Homo sapiens: one gene and its partners. The protein of the gene in region 1 interacts with the protein of each later gene in a biochemical or structural test. Each region holds a gene or a part of one and is shown in the gene's direction. Other genes may lie near its edges. The genes, in order: RNF168, KMT5A and DGCR8.

Region 1 (3,649 bases):
TGAATATTGTATAAGTTAGGGGGTTGAGGTTAACTTTTTCCCATATGGGTATCAGTTATTTCTGTACCTTTTGTTGAAAAGACTTTTTAAAAAAAATAATGTGGGTCTATTCTATTTCATTGATCCGTTGATTCTAATATTAGTGTCACACTGTCTTGATTACTGTGACTTTAGAGTAAATCTTTTTTTTTCTTTTTGAGACAGAGTCTTGCTCTGTTGCCTAGGCTGGAGTGCAGTGGCGTGATCTCAGCTCACTACATCCTCTGCCTCCCAGGTTCAAGCAGTTCTCCTTCCTCAGCCTCCTGAGTAGCTGCGATTACAGGCATGTACCACCATGCCTGGCTAATTTTTGTATTTTTAATAGAGACGGGAGTTTCACCACATTGGCCAGGCTGGTCTCGAACTCTTGACCTCAGATGATACTCCTGCCTCGACCTTCCAAAGTGCTGGGATTACAGGCGTGAGCCATCGTGCCCGTCCTCCGTATATTTATTCTTTGTATGTAGAGACGGGGTTTTGCTATGCTGCCCAGGCTGGTCTTGAACAGCTCACCTCAAGCAGTCCTCCCGTCTCAGCCTCCTGAAGTGCTGGAATTACAGGCCTGAACCGCCACACCCAGCCTATTTAAATTTTTCAATCAACTTACCAGTTTCTACTAACAGCCTGTTAGGAGTTTGATTGGGGTTGCATTGAACTTAATAGAACAATTTGGGGAGAATTGACATCCAAACAGCAACAGAGTCCTTGTATCCATGAAAATAGTATATTTCTCTGTTTGTGTAGGTCACCTTCAATTTTTTTCAGTAATGAAGTTAAAATAAGGTCATTAGAATGGGCCCTAATCCATTATGACTGGTTTCCTTATAAAAAGGAGAAATTTGGACACAGAGACAGACACGCACAGAAGGAAGATGATGTAAAGACACAGAGTACCACGTGAGGCTGGAGGACTGGAGTGATGTATTTACAACCCAAGGAACGTCTAAGGTTATCAGCATACTGTCAGAAGCAAGGAAGAGGCAAGGAAGGATCCCCTACAAGTTTGAAAAGTGTCATGGCCCTGCTGACACATTTATTTTGGACTTTTAGCCAGAACTGTGAGAAAATAAATTGCTGTATTTTCAAGTCACGCAATTTGTGGTACTTTTCTATGGTGGCCCTAAGAAACTAATATTTATCCCTAATTATATTATGGCTTTTGAGACTGTTTTAAGTAAATTTTAAAAAATTTTCAGTATTGTTCATTGATAATTTATAAAAATATAATTGGTGTTTCTGTGTTAACTTTGTTAACACATAATACATAAAGTGAATCTACTCATTTACTTTATGTATTTTTAATTTATGGAAGGAAGGTTGTAAGAAAGCACATATGAGATAGCTTTAAAAAATGAAGTATTTGAAAGTGAATTAGTGTGACGGAGACAGGTGTGTTTTACATTTGGATTTCTCAAAAAAGAATCCTATAGTAGGGAAGAATCAGCCTTAGAATGTCTAAATTTCCTTTCTGTTTGCGACTGTCACTGTAAAAATTGATGCAGGCAAGAATTACAAACGGATGCCAAAATCCCTGCTTGAAAATTTGCCGGAGAACGGAGGACTCATATAGTCTGAAAATATCATCTTACAGATTGCTTATTAATTACAAAGGGTGAAGGATACAGTCGAGAAGCCTGTTACCACAGTAATGAAGTGATCACAGTTAACGTTATCCATGGAACAAACAAACATTGCGGTCCTCCTGATAGGACGAGTATAAGGCATAACCTGAATCTAACTGTGAGAAAACAAAAACCCAAATTGAAATTCTACAAAACGTAGTTGTTAGTACCTCAAAAATGTCAGTGTCATGAAGGCAAAGCCTTAGGAATCATTCTAGTTGAAAGGGAGATTAAAAGAGAATGACAGCTAAATGCAGTGCATGACCCTGGATTAGAACATGGATTAGGACAAAGGTTGTTATTAAAGACATGGGGATAGTTGGTGAAATTTTTATCATTGATATGATGGGTAATATATCAATGTTAATTTTCTTGAACTTGATCATTGTATATCAAATCAAGAGATAAGGACAGCATCTCTTATGAGGTGGACACGTAAGGATTTGGTGAAGGGTTATGATCATGCAACTTTCAAATGGTTCAGAAAATACACACACACACACACGAAAGGCAATGTGGCAGTTTAAAAACTTCATGAATCTAAATGCAGGTTAAACGGGGGTTTATCATACTATTTTTGCAATTTCTGTAGATTTGAAAATTTTCAAAATAAATATTGAGGCAGAAAGTGCAAATTTAGTTTATGTTATTTTATTTTCGAGACAGGGTCTCACTTAGTCGCCCAGGCTGGAATGCCAGGGAGCGATCTTGGCTCACTGTACCCTCCACCGCCCGGGCTCAAGCAATCCTCCCACCTCAACCTCCTGAGTAGCTGGGACCACAGGCACACACCACTACGCCAGGCTAATTTTTTTATTTTTTGTAGAGATAGGGTCTCACTATGTTACCGAGGCTGGTCTTGAACTCCTGAGCTCAAGTGATACTCCTGCCTCATCCTCGCAAAGTGCTGGGATCACAGGTGTGAGCACTTTGCCCCTGATTGCCATTTATAGCCACACTACTTGGTGATGATCCAGCCACACTGATGTACATACTGCTTCACAAATCATATGCTTATTTTCCAGAGCAACTTTGGGCTTTTTATTTTTTAACTATCTCTTTATTTTGTACCCTGTGCCCAGCCCAGGAATGCACATTTAATTGGGAGAAGGAAACTGCCATTTACATGGAGCTGCAGTCTAGTTCAGTGATGGGAGGGCAGTTTTATGAACAGCTCAACTGTTCAAGTTAAGGCTTATTATTTATTTTTATTTTTCATCCAGTATTATACATTCAGGTCTTTAACTAACTTGAATTTTTCCTTCAAAATAAAATAAAAAGCATGGGGACATATTTCCTTAAATGAGTCCTGGCCGCCTAGGAAGACCACTTGCTGCGAAGAAGCAAAATATCGAGTAGAGTAGGAATGTTTAACCGAAGTGGGTTTCAGCAGAAATTTTAGAGTTAACCAGAACTGAAGAGTGTCGAGAGTTGTTTCCAACAGATGGCAAAAATTGTATAGTCACTTTAAGACTATAAAACTGAGATATTCAAATTTCTTATAAAATTAGAGTTGTTTAAGAAATAGCAAACAGGCCAGGTGCGGGGGCTCACACCTGTAATCTCAGTACTTGAGAGTTCAAGGCAGGCAAATCGCTTGAGCCTGAGAGTGTGAGACCAGCCTGGCCAATAGGGCAAAACCGTCTACAAAAAATACAAAAATTAGCCGGGTGTGGTGGTGGGCGCCTGTAGTCTCAGCTACATGGGAGGCTCAGGCAGTAGCATTGCTTGAGCCTGGGAGGTGGACACTGCAGTGAGCTGAGATTGCACCACTGCACTGCAGCCTGAGTGACAAAGTGAGACTCTGTCTCAAAAAAAAAAAAAAATAAATTTAAAAAAAGAAAGAAATAGCAAATGGAAGGCTGGGCACGGTGGCTCACACCTGTAATCCTGGCACTTTGGAAGGCAGGTGGATCACCTGAGGTCAGGAGTTCAAGACCAGCCTGGCCAACATGGTAAAACCCCCGTCTCTACTAAAATTACAAAAA
Region 2 (3,649 bases), on another chromosome or scaffold:
ATTGATGAAGCTTCATTTAAAAAAAATTTTTAAAAAGGTCCATTTTCTTCCCCACAGAGAGCAGCTTTGGTTTTATTGCCTGAAAAAGGCAATGTCTTTCAGCCAAGAATGAGCTGTTTAAAACATTTGTCAGCAGTGGGAGGCTGTGCTAGGTCACTTTTTTTTTTTTTTTTTTTTGAGATGGAGTTTTGCTCTTGTTGCCCAGGCTGGAGTGCAATGGCGTGATCTCGACTCACCGCAACCTCCATCTCTTGGGTTCAAGTGATTCTCCTGTCTCAGCCTCCTGAGTAGCTGGGACTACAGGCATTCGCCACCACGCCCAGCTAATTTTGTATTTTTTTTTTTTAGTGGAGATTGGATTTGTCCATGTTGGTCAGGCTGGTCTCGAACTCTCGACCTCGGGTGATCCGCCCACCTCAGCCTCCCAAAGTGCTGGGATTACAGACGTGAGCCACCGTGCTCGGCCTGCTAGGTCACTCTTAAAGACAGCACTGGGCCAGGTGCAGTGGCTCACACCTGTAATCCTAGCACTTTGGGAGGCCCAGGTGAGCGGATCATCTGAGGTCAGGAGTTCGAGACCAGCCTGGCCAACATGGTGAAACCTTGTCTCTACTAAAATACAAAAATTAGCCAGGCATGATGGCAGGTGCCTGTAATCCCAGCTACTTGGGAGGCTGAGATGGGAGAATCACTTGAACCCAGGAGACGGTAGTTGCAGTGAGCCGAGATCGCGCCACCGCACTCCATCTTGGGTGGCTGAGCAAGACTCCGTCTCAAAAAAAAAAAAAGACAGCACTGCAGATGGTGAGGTGGTGCCAGACCACAGAATCCCAGACACCTCCCAGCCAGGGTTGGAGCTGCGGTGTGCCCACACACAGGGCCTCTGCTGAGCGTCCACCAAGGGCTGCTGTGGACTTTAGGGTGGGGGGAGCCGAGTTGGCCTTGTTAATAAGAAGCAAGAGTTTGTGCTGGGCAGAGTGAAGGCTGCGATGGGACAGGATGCAGGTCTGCTAAATCTTGCAGCAGATGAGCAGAAGGGAAGAACACACTTGCTTCCCTAAAGCACAGTCTGCAAACACAAGAAAGCTCGCCCTGTTCCTGGACCGGGAGCCGTGCTTTGCCCCCCACTGTTTGTGTTGGCTCTGCTGAGTGCAGCCATGCAAGCTGTTGCTGGCCAGGGCAGGGAGGCCATAGCTGGCCGGGATGACGTGGCTAGAGCTGGTCAGGGTGGAATATTTTCTGACTGCACAGATAAAGCCCAAGAACGGGACAGCTGGGGCTCATCTGAAGGGTGGGGTCAGTCCTGACTTGACTGCCATGCTGGGCCCAGGCTGTGGATCCAGGAGGGTGGGGCATAATACAGCCTGTTGTTGGCCAGATGGTCTGGGGTGAAACTGCAATTCAGAGCCTCTTATATACCTCCACTGAGGCTGAAGACAGCAGCCAGGGCGGGCCTAGCGCCAGGGCGTGGGTCCTGGGCAACAGGGTGGGATCAGGGCTGCTGGATTTGGACACAAGGTGGGCCTTGGAGAGATGCCCTATCCACCAAGTGCTTCACTGCAGGGGCCCCTTGGCCGGCCAGCCTGGCTGTGGGTGGGGTGGCAGCCAGCAGCGGGGCAGGGACCATGCCTCTTGGCAATGGCTGGGCTTCCTCATGCCCAGCTCGGCCCCAGGGCCAGATGTGCAAGCAGCCTGCTGATTCCGCTTGGGAAGGTCCCCTCCTTCCTGGTCACAGGCGCTTCTCAACTGCCCTAGTTCCAACCTTGTATCCCTCCCACTCCATCTCCTTCTAGGCCCATTTGTGGGTTCCTGCCAGAAGTCCCTTTAGAAAACCCAGGGCTGGTTGTTTGCAGGCCCCAAATTCCAGGCCTTTGGGAGACTCAGCCTCCCTGGCTTTGTGCCGGGGCATCTGGCCTGGTCCCAGCTTCCCTCTGCGCATCTCCTACCTGCCGTGTTTGGTCCCAGCAGAAAAACCCCCATTCCACTACCCCGGTCTTTCCATGATCACTCCCGTTTACATGGGCCCCCGTACTTCTCAGCACTCTCTGCACACTTGCAATGAATGGGTCACACAGCAAGGTGGTTATGTGTGTGATGGTGGTGGTGTTGCTTTGAGGGCCTGCTGTGTGCACTGTTCTAGACCAGGAGATTCCACAGTAAACTAGACCAGCCCGTAGGGCTTGTTTTCCAATGGGGAGTAATTAACAACAAAAAAGACACCAGCTACTTGGGAGGCTGAGGTGGGAGGATTACTTGAGAACAGAAGTTCAGTACCAACCTGGGCAACATTGTGAGACCCCATCTTTTGTGGGTTTTTTGTTGTTTTGTTTTTTTCGAGACAGAGTCTCACACTGTCACCTAGGCTGGAGTGCAATGGCGCGATCTTGGCTCACTGCAGCCTCCACCTCCCGGGTTCAAGTGATTCTCCTGCCTCAGTCTCCTGAGTACCTGGGATTACAGGCGCCCACCACCATGCCCAGCTGATTTTGTATTTTTAGTAGAGACAGGGTTTCACTGCGTTGGCCAGGCTGGTCTCAAAATGCCTGACCTCATGATCCACTTGCCTCGGCCTCCCAAAGTGCTGGGATTACAGGCGTGAGCCACTGAGCCCGGCCGTGAGACCCCATCTTAAAAAATAATTAAAAAGGCCTCCCAAGTAGCTGGGACTACAGGCGCCTGCCACCACGCCCGGCTAATTTTTGGTGTTTTTAGTAGAGACGGGGTTTCACCGTGTTAGCCAGGATGGTCTCGATCTCCTGACCTTGTGATCCGCCCGCCTCGGCCTCCCAAAGTGCTGGGATTACAGGCGTGAGCCACCGTGCCCAGCCAAAAAGTTTTTAAAATGTTTTTATTTTGCAATTTTTTTTTTTTTGAGACAGAGTCTCACTCTGTAGCCCGCGCTGGAGTGCAGGTGTGCGATCTCGGCTCACTGCAACCTCCACCTCCCAGGTTCAAGCAATTCTCCTGCCTCAACCTCCCAAGTAGCTGGGATTATAGGCGCTTGCCACCACGCCCAGCTAATTTTTGTGTTTTTAGTAGAGACAGAGTTTCACCATGTTGGTCAGGCTGGCCTCAAACTCCTGACCTTGTGATCCGCCCACCTTGGCCTCCCAAAGTGCTAGGATTACAGATGTGAGCCACCGCGCCTGGCCAATAATTTTAATTTTATAGAAAAGTTGCAAAGATAATACAGAGAGTTCCCCAGACTCCTTACCCATCTTCTCTCACTTAAGTTACTCTGGTGAATTTGTCACAGCTAAGTAACAACCAACATTGGTATATTACTGTTGGTTGAAGTTTTTTTTTTGTTTTTTGTTTTTTGTTTTGAGACAAGGTCTCACTCTGTTGCCCAGGCTGGAGTACAGTGGCATGATTATGGCTTACTAACCTCCGCCTCCTGGCCTGAGACTCCCAAGTAGCTTGGATTACAAGTGTGCACCACTATGCCCGGCTGATTTTTGTATTTTTAGTAGAGACAGGGTTTCGTCATGTTGGCCAGGCTGGTCTCGAACTCCTGACCTCAGGTGATCCACCTGCCTTGGCCTCCCAAACTGCTGGGATTACAGGCATGAGCCACTGTACCTGACCAAGTTTTGTTGTTGTTTTTTTTAAATCTATTCCACCAATATATATCTTTCTTTTTTTTTTT
Region 3 (3,649 bases), on another chromosome or scaffold:
GAAGTGTGGGTGATTGGGAACGCAGGCTGGGCCCAGCTATGTGGCTTGTAGGGAGATGGCCAAAGTGCAAGGCAGGGCCAGGCAGGAGATGCTGAAGGTGCGCCCGGCTCGGAGGTGTGCAAAGGCTCAGGAGCCAGGGCCAGCTCTCCCTGCTTGAAGGAGAGCGAGTGTGTCAGGGTAGCTCTCCCTGGTACCAGTGCCGGTCCATCTCTAACAGAAGAGCATATGTGTACCATCTGTCTTGTTTCTGCTGTTGTGGCCAACATCCTGCAGTGTAAGCCAGTGCCCACTCCTGAGGGGTGGAGGGTAACATGGGGAGGTGAGTGTAATCATTTTCCTCAAATGATTACAGAAACTCTCTGGGTTCTTGCCCTCCTGGTCATTGGAAGGGGAAGTAGTTGTGGAGGGGTTAGGCCTGCAGGTGGGGCAGCCCTAGGACTGTGTGGTGGGTGGGCCCTCTGCCCAAGCCAGCTGCCAAGAGCAGGGCCTGCCTTTAGGTCCCTGAGACCGAGGCCTCGGCACTGTCCCCGAAGAGGCCTTTACTCTGGACATGATAAGGGAGGGTGAGGGGGCTCACACGGGCCACCAGGGCATGTTAAGGAACTTGAGAGAGATTTTTGGGAAGCAAGTTGAAATGTAGGTAGCACTTGCTTCTGCCCTTGCTGTGCATGGTCCTTGGCTGTGACGGAGGGAGAGAAGGCAAGCCCCACTCTGGCCCGGGGGTGGGAAACTTCCCTGAGCAGGAGGGGGAAAGGTCCCAGCCAGGCACAGCCACAGCTTGGGGGAGCTCTGGCATCCCGAGGAACCACAGCACCCTTGGGGCTGGCCTAAGACGGGAAGGGGCTGAGGCCAGCCTGATGCTGCTCTGCATTCATGGAGTGTGCAGAGAGCTCAGTGCCTGAGGCTGATGGGCTGGGCTGCAGCGTGCTGTTCTTACTGGCTATGGCCACACTCTGGTTTCACTCCTTGATGAGGACTCTGGGCACCACGAGCACCTCACCTCCCTACTCTGCCCATGGCAGGAGGCCATATAAGTGGCGTGGTGTGGGCAGAAAGGCCTGGCAGCTATGGACTGCCCCTCGCTCTCTGCTGCTGTCAGTGGGCCTGGCATCACTGAGGCGGGCCAGTCAGCATGCAGTTATGTTGCCACAGCTCCTGGCTGTTTCGTGTCTGCCAGACCCTGGGCGCGCCTGCCTTCAGGGTCCCAGGCACACAGCTGCTGGGCAGCGGGCAGGCCGTAGAGCTACAGCCTGCAGTCCTGAGCGTGAGGTGCTATACTTCCCAGGAGACATCGGACAAGAGTGTGATTGAGCTGCAGCAGTATGCCAAGAAGAACAAGCCCAACCTGCACATCCTCAGCAAGCTCCAAGAGGAGATGAAGAGGCTAGCTGAGGAAAGGGTGAGTGCCACCCTAGCGGGAGGGCTGCCGGGCCACGGCCATTCCTGTGGCACCTGTGGAGGGACAGCAGACCCCAGGACCCGTGCCTGAGCTGACACCTTGGAAATGCTTGGATCCTCCTTCCAAAATCAGATACAGGCTTTTCTTTGAGCTTCGACATGTGTGATAGTTTTATAAATCACTTCAGTTTTGGTTCTGTTGTTAGAGAGCTGGCAGGCCAGCCTGTTGGTGGACCATGAAGGTCACAGTCTTGGTGGGCCACCTGAGTCCCATGTCCTCCCTGGGTGTTTGGAGGTAGGTCAGTGCACCTGCCAGGGTTGAATCTGTAGGGCTTGGTCCTGATGAAGCCTCCTAAAGCCACCTTGGGAACCCCACTCAAAGAGGGGCCTGTCAGGCTGGCAGTGGTGTCTTCTGTCTTCAGGCATCGTCTGCCTGGCCACGGCGTGACCTGCCCACCTGGGCCTTCTGGGTGGGAGCTTTCTTAAGTGTGGCAGTCCCCTGGCCTGGGTGAGAGCCCCAGGAGGTATCTGCTGCCGCCCAGGCCAGCAGGTCCCTTGCTGCTCCCTGGGGTGGGGCTTGGCCTCCTGGAGCCAGTGGGACTGCCTGGTTTGCCCCTGGTCGGAAGAGGGGCTGTGGGGCTCAAGGGCAGCAGGTGCAGGACATAGTGCTCCTGGCTGGGCCTGGGGCAAGCAAAAGCTGGGCAAGGGAGGAACACCCAATGGGGAGGCCTGGCCTGTCCCTGTAACTGCACCCAAAATTCTTCACTTCTTGGTACATGTCCTGATTGCCAGGGAGGCTGCACATGTTGTACTCTGATGGCAATGCAGGGGGCCTCTGCAATCTCAGGCTGGCCTGCCCCAGGCCTTCCCTGCTCCTCCTAGCCTGGCATCACAAGCACTGGTGCCGTTGGGGCTCCAGGGCCTCCTGGCATGATCTGCTGGGCTCTCCCTCCACCTTGTGTCTTCCCGAGCCTCTGCCAAGCCCACCTCACTGGTACCCCTGACCTTTGTTGTTCTTTCAGGAGGAGACTCGAAAGAAGCCCAAGATGTCCATTGTGGCGTCCGCCCAGCCTGGCGGTGAGCCCCTGTGCACCGTGGACGTGTGAGGGAGGTGGCACGGGCCAGGGCGCGGGGGCCGCCAGCCGCACTTCTGAGGAGACCAGCAGTCATGCATCGTGCACCACAGTGTCAGGCCTCCAACCCACGCTCCTTCCCTGTGGCCAACCTGTGGGCCCGGCCTTAGGGTGGAGGCTTTAGTGTACAGGGACAGCCATGGCCACACAGCACACATGTGGAGCAGCGGCTCTCCCTGGAAAGCTCCAGGCCTGAATGGATGGACTCAGCGACTGCACCAGTGGCAGCTGGTGACTGTGGACAGTGGTGGACCCTGCTTCTGTGCACCTGCTGCAGGCTCTTTTTATGAAGGCTTTCATGAATTTTAGTATGTAATACGCACTGACGACACATGATGCTTGGATGACAGATGAGAGGGGATGGCTGAGTCCTGTGGCTGGCCCGTGATGCCAGGTGGCCCATGTGCCCAGGGCGCCTGCAGGGCTGCTACAGGGACCTGGTCAGGAGGTGCACATGGTGCCCTGCCCTCACCCACCCTCTGTGTTTCCCCTTCTTTGAAAAGGTAGAAGAGAAAGGAATATTTTAAACCTTTTTGGCTTAAACAGAATTTTAGCATCAGAACTAGCTTTCTGGGATTGGAGGCAAACCATCAAGGTGGTCCCTCTCCAGTCTGGACACGATGCCAGCAAGGATGACGTCCTGCCACCTCCTGGAGTTACCCTGGCCTCCTAGGGTCCCTTTTTCTGATGAAGTCTTAATTCCCTAAAAGCGCCTCTTTGGACACTGAGGCCCTCTCTGCCTTTCCTGGCCTCCGGCAACAGTTTTTTACAAAGATTTTTTGCAGTCGAGTCCATATGTCCACCCATTGATTTTTAAAGCTTTTGTGATATTTTAGCATTTTGAAAGACTTTCACAGTGAGAGTAGAAGGTAGATTTGGAATCATGCATTTTAGCAAGTGGACTTGTTGAAACAGGAAGCAAGGGCCTTCAGTGTAGCCCATTCTTGATCCAGAGCTGTTGCCTGTGACAGCGGTTTCTCTGGATGTCAAAGGCAGCTGCCTGGTGCCCAGCTTGCTTCTCGACTGGTGGCCCCTATGGGTGGGTGTGCGATGGAAATGTGTTCCTGCCGGAGTCTGAGGCACCAGGGTGTGCTCAAAGGCTGGCCCTGGTGGTGGAC

Evidence for each region.
Region 2: the proteins of RNF168 (region 1) and KMT5A form a complex in vitro, tested with the Homo sapiens proteins (one study listed by BioGRID).
Region 3: the proteins of RNF168 (region 1) and DGCR8 form a complex in vitro, tested with the Homo sapiens proteins (one study listed by BioGRID).

The regions. Positions count from the first base shown.
Region 1 is NC_000003.12:196,493,694-196,497,342, reverse strand, and holds part of RNF168 (E3 ubiquitin-protein ligase RNF168), read left to right. Parts: intron 1-871; exon of another isoform or gene 872-1,129; intron 1,130-3,649. UniProt on the Homo sapiens protein: E3 ubiquitin-protein ligase required for accumulation of repair proteins to sites of DNA damage. Acts with UBE2N/UBC13 to amplify the RNF8-dependent histone ubiquitination.
Region 2 is NC_000012.12:123,397,507-123,401,155, forward strand, and holds part of KMT5A (N-lysine methyltransferase KMT5A), read left to right. Parts: intron 1-3,649. UniProt on the Homo sapiens protein: Protein-lysine N-methyltransferase that monomethylates both histones and non-histone proteins. Specifically monomethylates 'Lys-20' of histone H4 (H4K20me1).
Region 3 is NC_000022.11:20,107,605-20,111,253, forward strand, and holds part of DGCR8 (microprocessor complex subunit DGCR8), read left to right. Parts: intron 1-1,285; coding exon 1,286-1,399; intron 1,400-2,420; coding exon 2,421-2,504; 3' UTR 2,505-3,649.